Homo sapiens: one gene and its partners. The protein of the gene in region 1 interacts with the protein of each later gene in a pairwise test. Each region holds a gene or a part of one and is shown in the gene's direction. Other genes may lie near its edges.

Region 1 (3,500 bases):
TTTTATCACCTCAAGGTGATAATTTGATGTTGATTTACACCATAGTTTATCAGTTCTGTCCATCTTATCACTAATCTGTTTTGTCATTTGGGCCTTATCAGTTTGTTTACTTATCTTTGTAAATATGCCCACCTGGGATATGGAAGATGTAGGATGGAGGAAGGAAAAGTATGACCATTTTTTTTTTTAATTACATAGAAAATCTGATAAATAATACTGATTATTCCCTATGTATGAAGATGTTTTCTGGGAACAATAAATAAAAATATTGTTTTAGAGCTAAAAGAATCCTTAGTTGAGGAAGCTGAGGCTCAGAGGAGTTAAGGGACTTATTTTGGATCTCAGAGCAGTTTAGTGAGCCTGTGTCAGACTACAGCTCTCCTCATTCCCATTCCAGTGCTCTTGCTGCTCCCCTCATTGGTGGTCCACATGGAAGTACCTGGTGCGATACAAAGGCAAAGAAATACTTTAGTTAAGAATATTTACAGCCTGTAATCCCAGCACGTTGGGAGGCCAAGGTGGGTGGATCACAAGGTCAGGAGATCGAGACCATCCTGGCTAACATGGTGAACCCCATCTCTACTTAAAAAAATACAAAAAATTAGCCAAGCGTGGTGGCAGGCACCTGTAGTCCCAGCTATTTGGGAGGCTGAGGCAGGAGAATGGCGTGAACCCGGGAGGCAGAGCTTGCAGTGAGCCGAGATCGCGCCACTGCACTCCAGCCTGGGCGACAGAGCGAGACTCCATCTCAAAAAAAAAAAAAAGAATATTTACAAAGCAAACCATGTGGGACATTCATAACAGTGGCAGTGGAGGAAGGATGAACAGGCATAGATCACTGTGGGGGCTGGGAATGAGTGTGGCATGGACAGGACTCAGGAGCTGTACCACATTTCTCAGTGGTGGAGTGCTGAAAGCAGCCGGGTTAAGATTATCTTTGAGTCTGCGTATTTGTACTTAACGATTGGTCTACTGAGGAGTATCTTATACAACTTCTTGCAAGGCATCTTGGTTGTGACCACTGATGTCAAGATTACATGTTAGAAGAATGCAGCTAGATTTGGTAGAATAAACAGAAATTTATAACCTTGTTATTAAATTAACAGTGTCAACCAGTAACCATTACTAGCGTTTTAATTAGAGATACTTCTGTTATCCTTTTATGTGCATGCCACATTTAGACGGATGTCTTTGTGTGTGAAGACAGTCGTTGTTGTTATTTGTATAACACTTGTAATAGATATAAATATTATTTCATCCTACATGTGTACCTTGCTTTCAGCACTGCAGGTTGCATTTGGTTCACTGTATCGAGATGATGTCTTGATAAAGCCCAGTCGAGTTGTTGCCATTTTGGCAGCAGCTTGTTTGCTGCAGTTGGTAAGTATGCACGTTATTCGAAGAAAGGTTCAGAATAATAATCTTTGTCTCAAAGTGTGTACTCCAAAAACAAAAATAAAGCTTAGCTTTTTTGGAGTTTTTAAATAAAAATGAAATGTATAAATATGACATTTATTATAAATCATTTAAAATGCCTAACCAAAAGCAATTTATTACAACCGAGGGAGTCATGATGTCTGCATAAAATGAATGCAGGCCATTTCTGTGTAGATATCTTAGTATGACTATAATGTGGAAAAAACGTACTTGTCTAAGGTCATTTACAGATTTCATTAATGACTTGACTATTAAGCAGATGGCTTATGATTACCAATTAATTTCATTCATGGGTTCAAATAAACATGCATGCCTACTATTTAAATTTCTCTTAATTTTGAAAGAATTGTGTATAAATCACATATATGTATTTTAATCTACTGGCAGAATGACAGATTTGTTCATTGAAGAGAAGTGTGTTGAGCACTGTGTCAAACTAGACACAGAAAGCCAAAGGTAACTTAAGACGTAATCCTTACTTTCAAAAAGTTCACAACATAGTATGTATGTGTGGAGAGGGGAGGGAGGGTTGATATACAAACCCAAAGGTAAAGTAAGAGCTGTTCAATATTATAGGTATGATAATAAACATCCTGTAGCATTTAGTGAATGGATAAAGAAGGGAGTGGTCAGTTCATCCTGGTGGTGTCACATACGAAAGTTACATTTTCACACAGAGTCTTGAAAGTGTGTTTGTATTGCAAAGTAAGAAGAGGGGAAGGAAGAGCATTTCAGACAGAGAGAACAGAGTAAACTAAGATCTAGTGATGTGAAATAATGGAGGATTCAAGACTCTAACAGAAACATGGCTCCCACATAAACATAAGAAGGATTGCAGAAGAGGGGGGCAGAAGCCAGATCATGAAAATACATCTATACATTGCTAAGAAGTTTAGCATACACAGTACCTTTGGAATATTTTAATCAGGGGAAAGACGAAGTTATGTTTTAGAAAGAATACTTCAGTAACAATGTGACAGATGAATTGAAGGAAAGATGAGTACAGCATTAGAGACAAAAACTTGTTGCATTCGTCCAAGGGAGGAAAGTAGGGTAGTAGCAATAAGCTTGGAGGGGAAAAAGTGGATACCAGAGAGATTCAGGGATAATCCACTGGACTTGGTGATAGACTAAATGTTAAGAGGAAAGGGGAGGAGTCTAGAATGATTTCCAGGTAAGTTTAAAATCCTAATGGAGTCAATGTTTTATTTTAATCTTAAAAAATTGTTTACTTTTATGTGGTATTTTTGTACTGATTTATTTGAAGTATTAATAGCTTGCTAAATATCCTTGGTTGAGATCATTTGATTTTCAAAATGTTTTGATCCTTTCAATACTTACTTCCAATAAGTATACTTTATTATCTAACTCTGGTCCTTTTGGTTTTGTTCTAAATTCACCTTCTGCTTACTTTTATGATTTACTAACTCTTTAACTTAATATACCTGCATGATGAATGTATTTCAGAAATTTGAATGAAAAGTAGTATTCTTCCCATATATTAAAGTTAGTTCACTTAAAACCTATATAAACATTTTAGGTTAAAACTTTAATGTTAATCATTTGAAATAATAATATACTTGTTTTAAGTCTATCTCTTAGATATTGTAGTTATTTTAAACTTGATCACTTTCTGCTAATGCATACTGTTAGTTTAGTCCCATCACATGGTTAACTGACTATGTAGACTTCTTAATTTAAAAAGAAATGGCAAAACAGACAAAATGCTGCTAAAGAAATTTGCAAAGGTCTCAGACAGGGGAAGAATAGAAAAGAAAAAGAATAGCAGTATTCATTCTCTACCTTACTACTCCCCCCCACCTTCCATTTTCAAATTCCAAGTATTTAGTTGAATACTTGCTGAACTTTTTTCAGTATTTTTATTGGACTTGTTAAAAAAAAAAAAAAAAACTTAGGTTTGCTGCACTTAATGAGTTTTCTTTCTTTTCTTTCTTCTTTTTTTTTTTCTTTTACTTTTTAATATGTAAAAGCTGTCAGAGCTAATTTTTCCCACGTGAAATGGGCCTTTCCAGTGCTTATTTATATTTACAGGACGGTTTAAT
Region 2 (4,146 bases), on another chromosome or scaffold:
CCAGCTGCCCCGGGGATGGAATGGGCTGTAAGGACACTTGGGCAAATGCTATCCTGCCCGAGGTCCTGAAATCACCCTCTGCAGTCTCCCCTGTACCCCAAGACCAGTCTGAGGATGCTGGAGGAGGGTGGAAGAGGAAGAGAGTATGTATCAGGGTAAAGTGGAAAACTCACTTATGTGATATTTGGCCTTTGAGAGCAAGAGTTCCCAACCCTAGGATCAAGCTGAATGCACAACAACCACTTTCACCCCCAAAACCTCAAAACATTTACCAATGACATACGTCTTCCATTCTCTGATTTCTGGGACTAGTCTTATTGCCCTACACCCTGCTTACTTCCAGTCTAACTTTTGCAATGGTTTCACAGACTCTGAGGTGTGGAATGGACCCAAAGACCATCTGCCCAAGACCCTGATGACTGGCAACAAAATTTACATGCACTAGAGGCTGTGTTTCACTTTCAGCATCCCACTCCACAGGCACCACCTGCCCAGCTACTGATACCTCTGACCTCGCCAATGACCCAGATAACCTGTGGTGTCTTTTGTGGAAACAGCAGTGCCATTACTAACTTAGAGTCTAAAAGCATCAAATCCCTAACAGAATGGAGCCTGCTAACATCTAAAGATGGAAGAAGGAAAATCCTGCTGCAAGCCTCCTTATAAACACCCACATGCATCTCTGACTATCCTGAGGCTCATTTCCACCACCACTACCATTGTCAGTGTTCTGAAGTCCAGGATCCTTCCATTTCCAGGCAAGAATTCACCCTTGGTGTCACCTCAGTCAAGGAGTCAATTGGAGAATTGGTTAGGACACTCTCTGGGGACAGCTGGTGCTAGGTGACACACACTCTTCACACTCTTCTCCATTCACTCTCATTATCTCAGAGTGCTAGGAGCCAACTCAGTCAGTATTTAGGCAACAGTCTGTATACTCATTTATCTTTTATAGCAACACACACGACTCAGGAGTTGACCCCAAAGCCCATGTATGTGCATTCTGGCTGGGAAGCTGTGTTGGTGGTTCGGGAAGGCATCTTTTTGCTTCTGTGTATTCAAAGCCTTAAGAACACAACCTGAAGTTCCCCATCTTCCATGCTCAGCATGCCCTTCAGGAGTACTGGTGCTTGTGTGGGTACACTTTTGCCTGTCTGAGAATGGCTCTGTCCCTGCTTCCGGGTGGTAGGTGGACACAAAGTGGGCTCTGAGGATTCCCCATGGAAGGACACAGTGGGTCATTGGCTGTGGTTTGCCCTGCCTCAGGGCTGGTGTCAGTCAGCCCATGCACACCTCCCTCCTCCTCTCTCCTCTGCTCATGGCCTGTGACATCACTGGCTACTCCCAGAAGGCTGCCCTCTGCTCTTGAGCACGGGCTCTCTATAGCTCTGGACCCCCTGGCAGGACTGAAGCAGGAGCAGAGTGGAGGCTGTTACCAAGACCAGATCATCACCACCCCTGGAGCCTGCAGGGGTCTCAGAAGCTGAGACCTCCCACTGAAGCTCCCACCTCATTTCCTCCACACAGGTAGCTCACCTGCAGGCTCATTGTCTGCCCTGCCTCTCATGCTGTCTCCATGCCTCTGTGTGGCCAAACCCAACTTCTCTCCCACTCTGCCTTTGCAGCTACAACCCTCCTGCCCCTTCCACCCCCTTTCCTGTTTTTCCATCTTGCAAGCACCAGTTATTTTTTCAGACATGTTAATATGAATGTTGGGAATGTGTGTTGTGGCTATTGGGAATGGGGTTTCTGTTTGTGAGTTGGGGCATAATGATTTAGGTTTGGAGATTATTTAGGTTTGGATACTGAACCTGCATCCCTACTGCTCTTTTGAATTCTGGTCACTTAGGAGAACTGAGTCCCATCAAGGATTTAGGGTTTGGCTGATATTTTGAGCTCCTTCACCCTGTCTTGGCACAGCCCTTTACAGTCCCTGCTTGATTCTCCTCTCTCCATTGTTTTTGTGGCAATTACACAAACATGAAACAGGGGTGGGAGCAGAGAAAGAGAGCCCAGGATTAGGAGCCAGAAATTGTAGCTTCTGATGAGGAACTGGCTTCTAAACCTTGAATTTTACTCTCTGGACAGCCCCTGACTTGTGGCAATGCCAATCTGTGCCTCAGTTTTCTCTTTGGAAAACCTCTGCCTTCTTTCCCGACTTTTTGGAAAGATGAGAATTTGAAGGGGTCTGTGCCTCTACCTACCTAGAAACAAGTGAGTAAAAGCCAATTTAGCGACTGAACTTAATAAGTAGACTCTGGATTCCAAACTCTTTGTAATTCTTTGTTTCACTGGTGCTAGTCTCTTTTCTCCAGTTGCTCTGTAATGTGTTGGAGAGCAAAGACTTTACCCTTTTCTGTTTACTGCCTTCATCCTGAACAACCAGCAATGTGCTCATGCTTAATATCTTATTCAGCATACAACTGCAGATGAATTAACTAAGCCCAGATGGCACGCTTATTATAAGAAAGTTCTGTGCATAAGCTGTTCCTTGGGGTGATCTCCAGCACTACCAGGGTTCCAGGCATGAAAGGAGGCATCTTCAACTCCCATTGATTACTAATGAAAGTAGAAGAGGTATGGTGGCCTGTGGGACCTGTGTCCCTTGCTGCTCAGAGACTCGCTTGGGCTCATGACGGTTTCTATGTTGCTCAGCGGACAGTCTTCTCCTGCTTCTCATTCCCTTCAATATGCCTTTGATAAATGTTAGTTGAATGAATGAGTGTCTGATACCAGAAACATCGTCTCTGAAATTGAAGCTTCACTGTGAGATCTAGAACTCTTCAGAGAATGAACAGAATGAACAATCTCAGCAGGTTAGAGATGCTAAGAGATGCGTCTCCTAGGAGAAGCCGGCTCTTCAGGCGTGTTCATCTCTATGCCCAGTGTGTAGGACCAGAGCCTCAATGCCTGGTGGGTTAGAGCTGAGTCCCAGTTTCCCTAGAGCTTCCTGGAGAGTATAAAAAAACAGGAGCAAGCCTTTCTGAAGTGCAGCATTTGGGTGGCAGTTTGGAGAGCCCAACCGAGGACTGCCTAATAGTGAAGGTGGACCCCTGAACTTGAGGACCCCAGAATCTCTGGCTCGGGTGTGTCTTCCAGGGCTGAGAAGGCTTAGGAGCAGCTGGAGACAACAGCTGTCCATTTGGAAAGGGGAAAGCTTGAGCATTTGAAAGCATTATCCCTTTCTACCTCCCCAAACTTTTCTAATGAATGTGTAGGAAAGGAGAACCCTCTCAATCCTCCCAGCCCCTTATCAGGACTTCAAGAAAGATCCAGTCCTCAGCCAACCTGCAGTGTTTTAGTTTTTATCACACAAAGGTTTAAATAAAAGGAATTAGAATTTTCTGATTTTAGCCAACCCACTGGCAAATTTTAGGAACCTGACCCTCTATCACAAAACACTACCTCCCAGGACCATTTCAAGCAAAAGACCTCACCCAAATAACCCCCCATTATTGCAGAGCCAGCCCCCAAGCTGGAAAAGGAGCTCCTAGAAGGAACTTCCCTTCCCAGCCTTCCCAGCTGGAGTCTCATCCTTCTGAGGAGGGTCAGCCTGGAGCATGCATCAGGACGGTGAGGAGCCTGGGGGAAGTGGGAAGACAGGGAGGACAACAGAGACAGGGGAAGACCTCAGGGCTTTGCTTCCATCAACTGTTTCATCTGCTATTGGCCAATGTTCTGGGGAAGCTTTTTCCAGTCCCTCCCTTCCTGCCCTGTCCTGCTTCCCTTAGATCAGGAGAGTTGGCGGGTATGGGCAAGGAACAAAGACTCACCCGTGAGCCAGCTCTCAAAGAAAGCAGCTTGCGTTGACAGCCTGGGGGCAGCAAGGATGCAGTCTCCCAGGAGAGGATGCACTCGGTGGTGGGAAGCCAGGCTGGAGGGGCCTGAGTGACCCTCTCCACAGGCGGGCAGGGCAGTGGGAGAGGTGGTGTGTGGATACCTCTGTCTCACGCCCAGGGATCAGCAGCATGAACCAGCTTGGGGGGCTCTTTGTGAATGGCCGGCCCCTGCCTCTGGATACCCGGCAGCAGATTGTGCGGCTAGCAGTCAGTGGAATGCGGCCCTGTGACATCTCACGGATCCTTAAGGTAATGGGCCAGCACCTTTACCCAGTGATGGGGACAGGAAGCAGGGAGAAAGGGCTCC
Region 3 (3,500 bases), on another chromosome or scaffold:
AGAAATTTTTCAAGAACATAGGATGTTCTCAATTATAGGTTTTTCTTCCATGATCTTCTTCTTACTTCTTTGGAATTCATTCCTGTTCACCAGCTGGCTGGTGATGGTAACAACAAAACAACTGAGGAGGCAGCAAGCAAATGAGTATTAGCAGGAAAAGCCTGGAGATGTGTGATCTGAACCATAGTTTGTGTTACGTCTCAAGATACAGACGGACCTGGCTATGTCCAAAACCATTATATTATTTCTGCTAGTAAGATTGTTCTTGGTTTGTAAAGACAAGGTTAAAGCTATCTCTGTTGATTAATGTTCAATGGTTTTCAGGTGTTCTGCCCATTAAACAAATTTCAAAACTAAGGACTGTTTCAAATTGGGCTGGGCATAACTAATTCTAATAAAAATAGGTGATATTTATTATATTGCTTATTACATCTTAGGCACTATCCTCAACAGTTTTGGTCTCATTTAAACCTCACAATGACCCTAAAGGTAGATACTATTATTACCCCCAATTTATAGATGAGGAAACTGAGGCTGAGAAGTGTTACATAGTTTGCCAAGGTCACAGTTTAAAACTAGTAGAGGTAGACTGTTAGTGAGGCCAGTCTGACTTCAGGGCAATGCTTCCTTCTCTCTAAGCTGAAGAAGAAGTAAAGAAGAAGACAGGGAAGAAGCATCCAAATACCTAGGAGGTACTTTCTCTTTTTCAGTGCTGGGCTGAGCCCTCTCTCCCTTACTGGAGGCTTACTTCTAGCTTTTCCTGAAGTGAACGTGTGGTGTAAATTGGAAGAGCACTGGATCAGGACTCAGAAACTGGCAGAGTTGCCCATCAAAGTTCTAGCTGCCTCAAGGGGTCAAAGTTCAAACAAGATGTGAATGGGAAAAGGGTTTTGAAGGCTATTTGTGCACCTGTGATTTCCTAGGGGACATGTCCCAGTGGGTTGGCCCCAGCAAGCCCAGAGTGGGAAGGCATACAGCTTAGGTTATCTGGGCCTTTATGCAGCCCTTAGGCTGTACAGAAGCCTACAGCCCTTTCTAATCTCAATGTAACTTAAACTAGGAGATGAGGGATGTCTGAGTTCAAGGCCACATACAGTGATTTTAAATGAGCTGAATCTTCTACAGTCACCTCCTCCCTGCTGCCTGCTTCTGGTCTTACTAGCCTTGCTCACCAACCTTGCATCTCCTGTGAAGACAAACCCACTCAGTGTTTGAGACCTAATTCTCCTTGCACTGCCTGCCAGTGAGATGTCAAAAGCCCAGGCTCCTCTAGTCCTGCAATAAGATTCTTCAGGCATAGGACGGGCCTCCTGGTCTCATATAACCAGTATTGAGTGCTGGGTGCTGATTCCAAAAAACCATGCCCTCTGCCTCCCCTAATCACAGCTCTGAGGGAACAGCAGCTGGGGGTCACATGGAGAGGCAATCTAAATAGCAACCACACCAAGGAAAACCTCATTGTCCTGCCCCACCCCCTTCTCCTACCTCTCTTTTCATTTACGAATTCAATTATTTGTCAGGCTGAACATTTAAATGCACTCTATGCTCTCTAGATTCCCCCTACTCCCCTTCTCATTAAAATTCTAATTATTACCAGAACAAGTAAGATGTATGATCAAAGGAAAGCAAAGCCCTAGAAACACCTTTTGTTTTGAGGTGACTCATATTGCAGAGAATGCATCCAGAACAGCTGTAACAGAGAACAGATGTGAAGGGCTAGAGATGGCCAGATATGTAGAATAAGGACACATATAGCTGTGGTGACTTCCCTGGTGAGCCCACTAGGATAAAGACCTGAAGAAAGAGTCTCCAAATTATTTAGATCATGAACTCATAACAGGTTAAAAAAAAAAAAAAAAAAAAAAAACTTAATACCTCCAATATATGTTTTTTTGTTCCCAAGTTACATACATGTTCCACAGAGGTGATACTTCAGAACCAGACTGGCTGGGTTGTAGCCCAGTTTCACCACCCACTAGTTGTGTGACCTGGGAAATCTATTTAACCTTCTGTGCCTCAGTTTCCACATCTGCAAAATGAGGATAATAATCATACCTTTTTCATTGGAGAGGATTAAATGAGTGAATAGATATAAAGCTCTTTGAACCTTAGACATAGTAATGTTGAATAAATTGCCTAAATCTAATAACATGCTATTATTCCTATCAACCTGTATATTAAAAATTTGATTTCTTTTAAAGATTATAAATATTAAAATGGCTTGGTTTTTTTCTCTTGTGTCCACCTGCCCCGAGCTTCACCCCATTGGAGACACCACCACATTGGAGACCTTTAGTATAGAAGTTGACTTAGAATGAGCTTTCCCGGTGTCTGGCAGTCTCCAGGTGAAGGACTACCTCCAGCTCCTTTGGCCAGGGAAAGGCTCTAATGTCCCTGTGCAGGGAGCCAGGTGTTGGGAAGGCTTGGGAAGGGGGTGGTGGTAGGTGGCTCAGGACTTGAGGATTCTCTGCTATTATTACCTATTCTCGGAGGTGATAACTGATCTAGGCAAGTAACTTGCAGCAAAGGAATCAAAAGGCAGTGCTGGCTTCCCAGAGAGAGTGGCTGATATCCTCAACTCCTTCTTGGCCCCTGATGTGGGATCTCTTTCCCTGGAGCCTATGTGCTGTGGGAGTACCTGGATCCCCTTAGCAGGGGACTGGGCATTCAAGCCTTGCTCAGAACTTGGCACATGGCAAGTACTCAGTAAATGTTGCTTGACCTTAATTGAAATGAGAGCTAATTACAGCCTTCTCATACATCATTCTTTCAGTCACTCATTCATTCCATGTGCCAGTTTCTATGTGAGGCCCTGAATCAGACAAAGAGGAAAAACACGTGTCATAGTAGCCTACAGTTTAACCAGAGACAGACAGGTCAGGGCAGAGGAAAGAGTGCCAGCCTGGGTGGTGGACATCTGGACCCTAGTCCAGGTTCTGTGTCTGACCAACCTGTGACTCCAAGCAAGTCCCTTCTGTGAACCACTGCTGCCATCTTTAAAGGCACAGCCTGGCCTCACTACTTGTGGGGTCATTTCTTACCTTAAATAGTAAGATTTTTAAGGCATTTGGACAGGCTAATACAGAGGCTTCAAACTTACAAGCTTTCAGGGGCCAGACAGGGAACAGGAAGTGGAGGGTTGAGCTGGTGAGGACATATCCTTACAAAGAGAGTCACCAGTTCCCACCATGTGGGAGCCCATGTTCAATTACCAAGTCATTGGTCTTTTCCAGTGAATTCAGAAGTCTGGGGTGACGATGATGATGGAATTTCTTAACGTTTCAATCATTAAGCAAGCCAAACAAAACTCTTCTGCTAGTTTGTCCACAGTAACCTTTTTGCAAACCCTGCAAAGTATGCCCTTGGTTCAGAGCCTTCTAACTTCTCTACTCCGAGCAAGAAGAGGCCTTGGGCTCAAAGGTTCATTCCCAAATTTGGAGAGGGAAGTGGGATGGGAGGTCTGCTTAATAATTTCTCACAAAGAGGGGCATCCCTCATAG
Region 4 (3,500 bases), on another chromosome or scaffold:
GCTGCTTGTATGTATTGTATATGTTTAAGTGTACTTTACATCTTTCTTTTATTCATCTTGAATTGAGAAACTACTATATTCTATTTTATGTAATTGGATCCCTTCTAAAAAATTGATCACCTAGGAGTTGCAAAGAAACCAAATAGCCCTGAAACTTGACAAATGAAAATGGCCCTTTCAGTTGTCCAATTAAGCTAAGGGTTAGCTCTTTGATATGATTTGGAGGGATATTAGTAAGAATTTAGATCAACAGGTTTGCATGATGGAGATTGTGTTCTGTGATGTATTGTCTTAGAGAGACTTTTAAATCCTTAAAAGAATCTTCACAACTGTTGAGTCCTGAAGAATGAAAAACTTCAGTTATGAAAGTAATCAATATTTCATAGTATGTTGGGAATTTTTTCCTAATTCTTATACAATTAAATGTATGTAACTTCTCCCTTTGGTAAACACATTTCTTTTTTTTTTTTTTTCAAATTAAAACCCTCAATACTTGTTACCTAAAAGGCACTCAACTGTGTAAATGAACAGGTAGAATTCAGTCTCCAGTCCACTGTTAGATGCATTCATTCTTGTTTACTCTATTCCTGTTGATTTATTTTTTCTCTTCCAACAATTTCAATAGGAGCAAGCTGCTACAATTCCTCTTTTTGAATATTTTGAATATATTAAAAATATATTGGCCACTAGCCACGTCCTGGGTGCAGTGTTAAACATCAGTTTGCTTGAGTGGTAGTAGTTCATTCCTTTGAAAAAGCGTGCATCGTGAAGGCATACAACTTTAAAATATTGTCATGATTCTCAACAAATGTTTGAGCACTCACTCCATAGATTTATTGCATACCTAATAAAACAATAACTTATGTTTGTGTAACATTTTACAACATAAAAAGTACTTTTGGTTGTATCATCTTGCTTTGTTCTTGAAACTCAGATACATTTTTACTTTACCCTCTTACAGAAGAAATTGAGGTGCAGAAAGAAATTATTTGCCCTGAATTGCAGCAGTAAGTGCCTACAGAGTGATTTTCCATATTCTAAGAATATTGATACAGTTCTTAATCTCAAATTATGAAGTCGAATCTCAACAGTAGATCAGATTCGGAGAGAGCCTTAAAATGTGGGTTTAACATGAGTGAACACATGTGGCAAAGATAAAGAACTTGGTTAAGCAGTGGAGACAAGTTCTCCAGCACTCACACCCCTTAGAAGCTGCAGTAAACAGTCCTGTTTTCTAGAGAGAGGGCACTATTCATGGCGTTGTTCAGAACGTTACAGATTGTGGCTTATGTCCTTCACTCCTGCACTTGGCCAGTCTCCCCATTTCTCCAGCAAGCCAGCAGTGTGTCCTTGAGGAGCGGGCATTTATTTAATGGACCTTCATTTTCTTCTGCTTTTGGTGGTGGCTTCTAGATGGCATTATAATCAGAACACATACTTAGATACTGCAATGTTTGCCCGTGCAGGAACTAGAGATTTATAAATCCCACATATTCCCCATGGTGTGTCTGATCTGCTGTGTGTTTGCTCCCAGGAGCCATCTGTGTGTGAAAAGGAGGCCTTGCCCATCTCTGAGAGCTCCTTTAAGCTCCTCGGCTCCTCGGAGGACCTGTCCAGTGACTCGGAGAGTCATCTCCCAGAAGAGCCAGCTCCGCTGTCGCCCCAGCAGGCCTTCAGGAGGCGAGCAAACACCCTGAGTCACTTCCCCATCGAATGCCAGGAACCTCCACAACCTGCCCGGGGGTCCCCGGGGGTTTCGCAAAGGAAACTTATGAGGTATCACTCAGTGAGCACAGAGACGCCTCATGAACGAAAGTAAGATTTGTTTAAATTTGTTGCATAAATAGCTGGGGCATATCTGTGACTAGCCAGGTATGTGCATCCCAGGTATGTTTATTGAGTGAGAGAAATGAGTCAGGCTTTACTCTTGGTTTGGAGATAAAACTGGAAGCAGTGACATGTTCGTTCGAGCTGCTTGTGAGTATACAAGCAATGGGTACTTGTATTGTCAGGAAGCAAGTGAAAGTGAGCAAAAATGGTACCTAACATGCATAGTCATTACTCCTCAAACAAAGTAAGAGACGTTGTTGACTGTGGAACTTTGCTGCTGTGAGGAAGAGGGCAAGCGGATGAGTCTCCCCATCTGAAGCCCTGGAGCAGGGTTATAATGGGAGGGAGAGGCGCTGATCCTTACAGGCAGAGCAAGAGAGGTATGCTGGCCTCATAGGGTGACAGGGGTGCTTCAGCTTCTGGTCCTAGCTCTGCCGTGAACTAATTGTGACCTGGACGAATTTGCTAAATTCTCTGAATAACAAAATTGGAGTAGATGTTTTCTAAAATCTCTCACTGTAAGAATTCTAGATTCTTCTAACAAGATTTATTCATTGTAATAGTTGGGTTCCTGTGACCAGTTAGAATCGTCTGGTTATGGAGAAGAGTAATCAGAAGTTCCCCCCATTCCTTCCAAGTGTCCCTTAGTGATTCATTTAACTCTGTGTGCCAGAGACTATAAATGGACACAGTTATCTTTAAAAACAACTTTAAACAATTTTAAAAATCTCTCACCTAATATGAATCAAGGTCACACCTGTGTACAGTCGCTGCCTTCTTCTGACCAGCAGCCGCAGAAGTCCCAGGACCTATGTGTTCGTGTAGTTCATACACGGATCATTGAGAGTGTGAGTTAGTACAGAAGTGTTTGGAATGTTCTGAGTAAAGAAGTGTGAGCATTAACAGTCCTGGATGATGGAGCAGAGCCTCCCAGCTTTGTTTTCTGTCAGCCATTGGAAAGAGTTCTTGGTTCTTTGGAATTCAGCGGGGTAGTGGTGATCCCAAAAGCAGGGGACATGTCAGAAGGTACTGCTTAATAAATACACGCTTTTAGAGACACACATCGTTGGGTTGTAGCTGTGTAAGTTTCTTGTGTTTAACACCCTGTCTGCACATTACTTCTGTGCTGCCTCACCACTGCCTGCCCACTCCTCTGTTGTTGGCGTTTTCAGTGATCATTGAAACATTCCTGTCTGGAGAGTCCTAGTTCTCTTGTGAAGTCTGCTGTTTCTCAAAAGCCAGAGTTGATAGGACTTAGTATCAGTACTTTTCCTTTCTCCATGAAGAATGTAGCTTTATAATAGATGATGTCACACATCCGTAATGGGAGGGATGAGGAGATGCCTGTCTGTCTGCCTCTCTAGCATGGCCCATTCTGCTTTCTTTCCCCCTTGTGAGCTCTTTTCCGATTTATCTACAGGAAATAAGACATTGAAATTCAGGGCAGGATATTGTTCATTTTAAAGGGAAATGTATTTTTTAAAGTTCAGTTTTTTTTTGCTTTTGTTTATACTTTAATTAAAAATTTTTTTTCCTGCCAGTTCCTGAAAAAGAAAATAGAGAAAGAAATATTATTGTTCCTGGGCGAAGTGGCTCACTCCTGTAATCCCAGAGCTTTGGGAGACTGAGGTGGGAGGTTGCTTGAGGCCAAGAGTTCAAGGTCACAGTCA

The links. Proteins that work in one complex are often made in the same cells at the same time.
Region 2: the proteins of GMCL1 (region 1) and PAX4 interact in a two-hybrid assay, tested with the Homo sapiens proteins (3 studies listed by BioGRID).
Region 3: the proteins of GMCL1 (region 1) and SYT6 interact in binary tests that used the Homo sapiens proteins (3 or more experiments, as listed by UniProt).
Region 4: the proteins of GMCL1 (region 1) and TBC1D1 interact in binary tests that used the Homo sapiens proteins (3 or more experiments, as listed by UniProt).

What each region holds. Positions count from the first base shown.
Region 1 is NC_000002.12:69,839,660-69,843,159, forward strand, and holds part of GMCL1 (germ cell-less protein-like 1), read left to right. Parts: intron 1-1,282; coding exon 1,283-1,380; intron 1,381-1,823; exon of another isoform or gene 1,824-1,893; intron 1,894-3,428; exon of another isoform or gene 3,429-3,456; coding exon of another isoform or gene 3,457-3,489; coding exon 3,490-3,500. UniProt on the Homo sapiens protein: Possible function in spermatogenesis. Enhances the degradation of MDM2 and increases the amount of p53 probably by modulating the nucleocytoplasmic transport.
Region 2 is NC_000007.14:127,615,343-127,619,488, reverse strand, and holds the start of PAX4 (paired box protein Pax-4), read left to right. Parts: upstream 1-1,346; 5' UTR 1,347-1,527; intron 1,528-2,088; 5' UTR 2,089-2,214; intron 2,215-3,461; 5' UTR 3,462-3,560; coding exon 3,561-3,573; intron 3,574-3,957; coding exon 3,958-4,088; intron 4,089-4,146.
Region 3 is NC_000001.11:114,143,870-114,147,369, reverse strand, and holds part of SYT6 (synaptotagmin-6), read left to right. Parts: intron 1-3,500.
Region 4 is NC_000004.12:38,048,084-38,051,583, forward strand, and holds part of TBC1D1 (TBC1 domain family member 1), read left to right. Parts: intron 1-1,534; coding exon 1,535-1,815; intron 1,816-3,500. UniProt on the Homo sapiens protein: May act as a GTPase-activating protein for Rab family protein(s). May play a role in the cell cycle and differentiation of various tissues.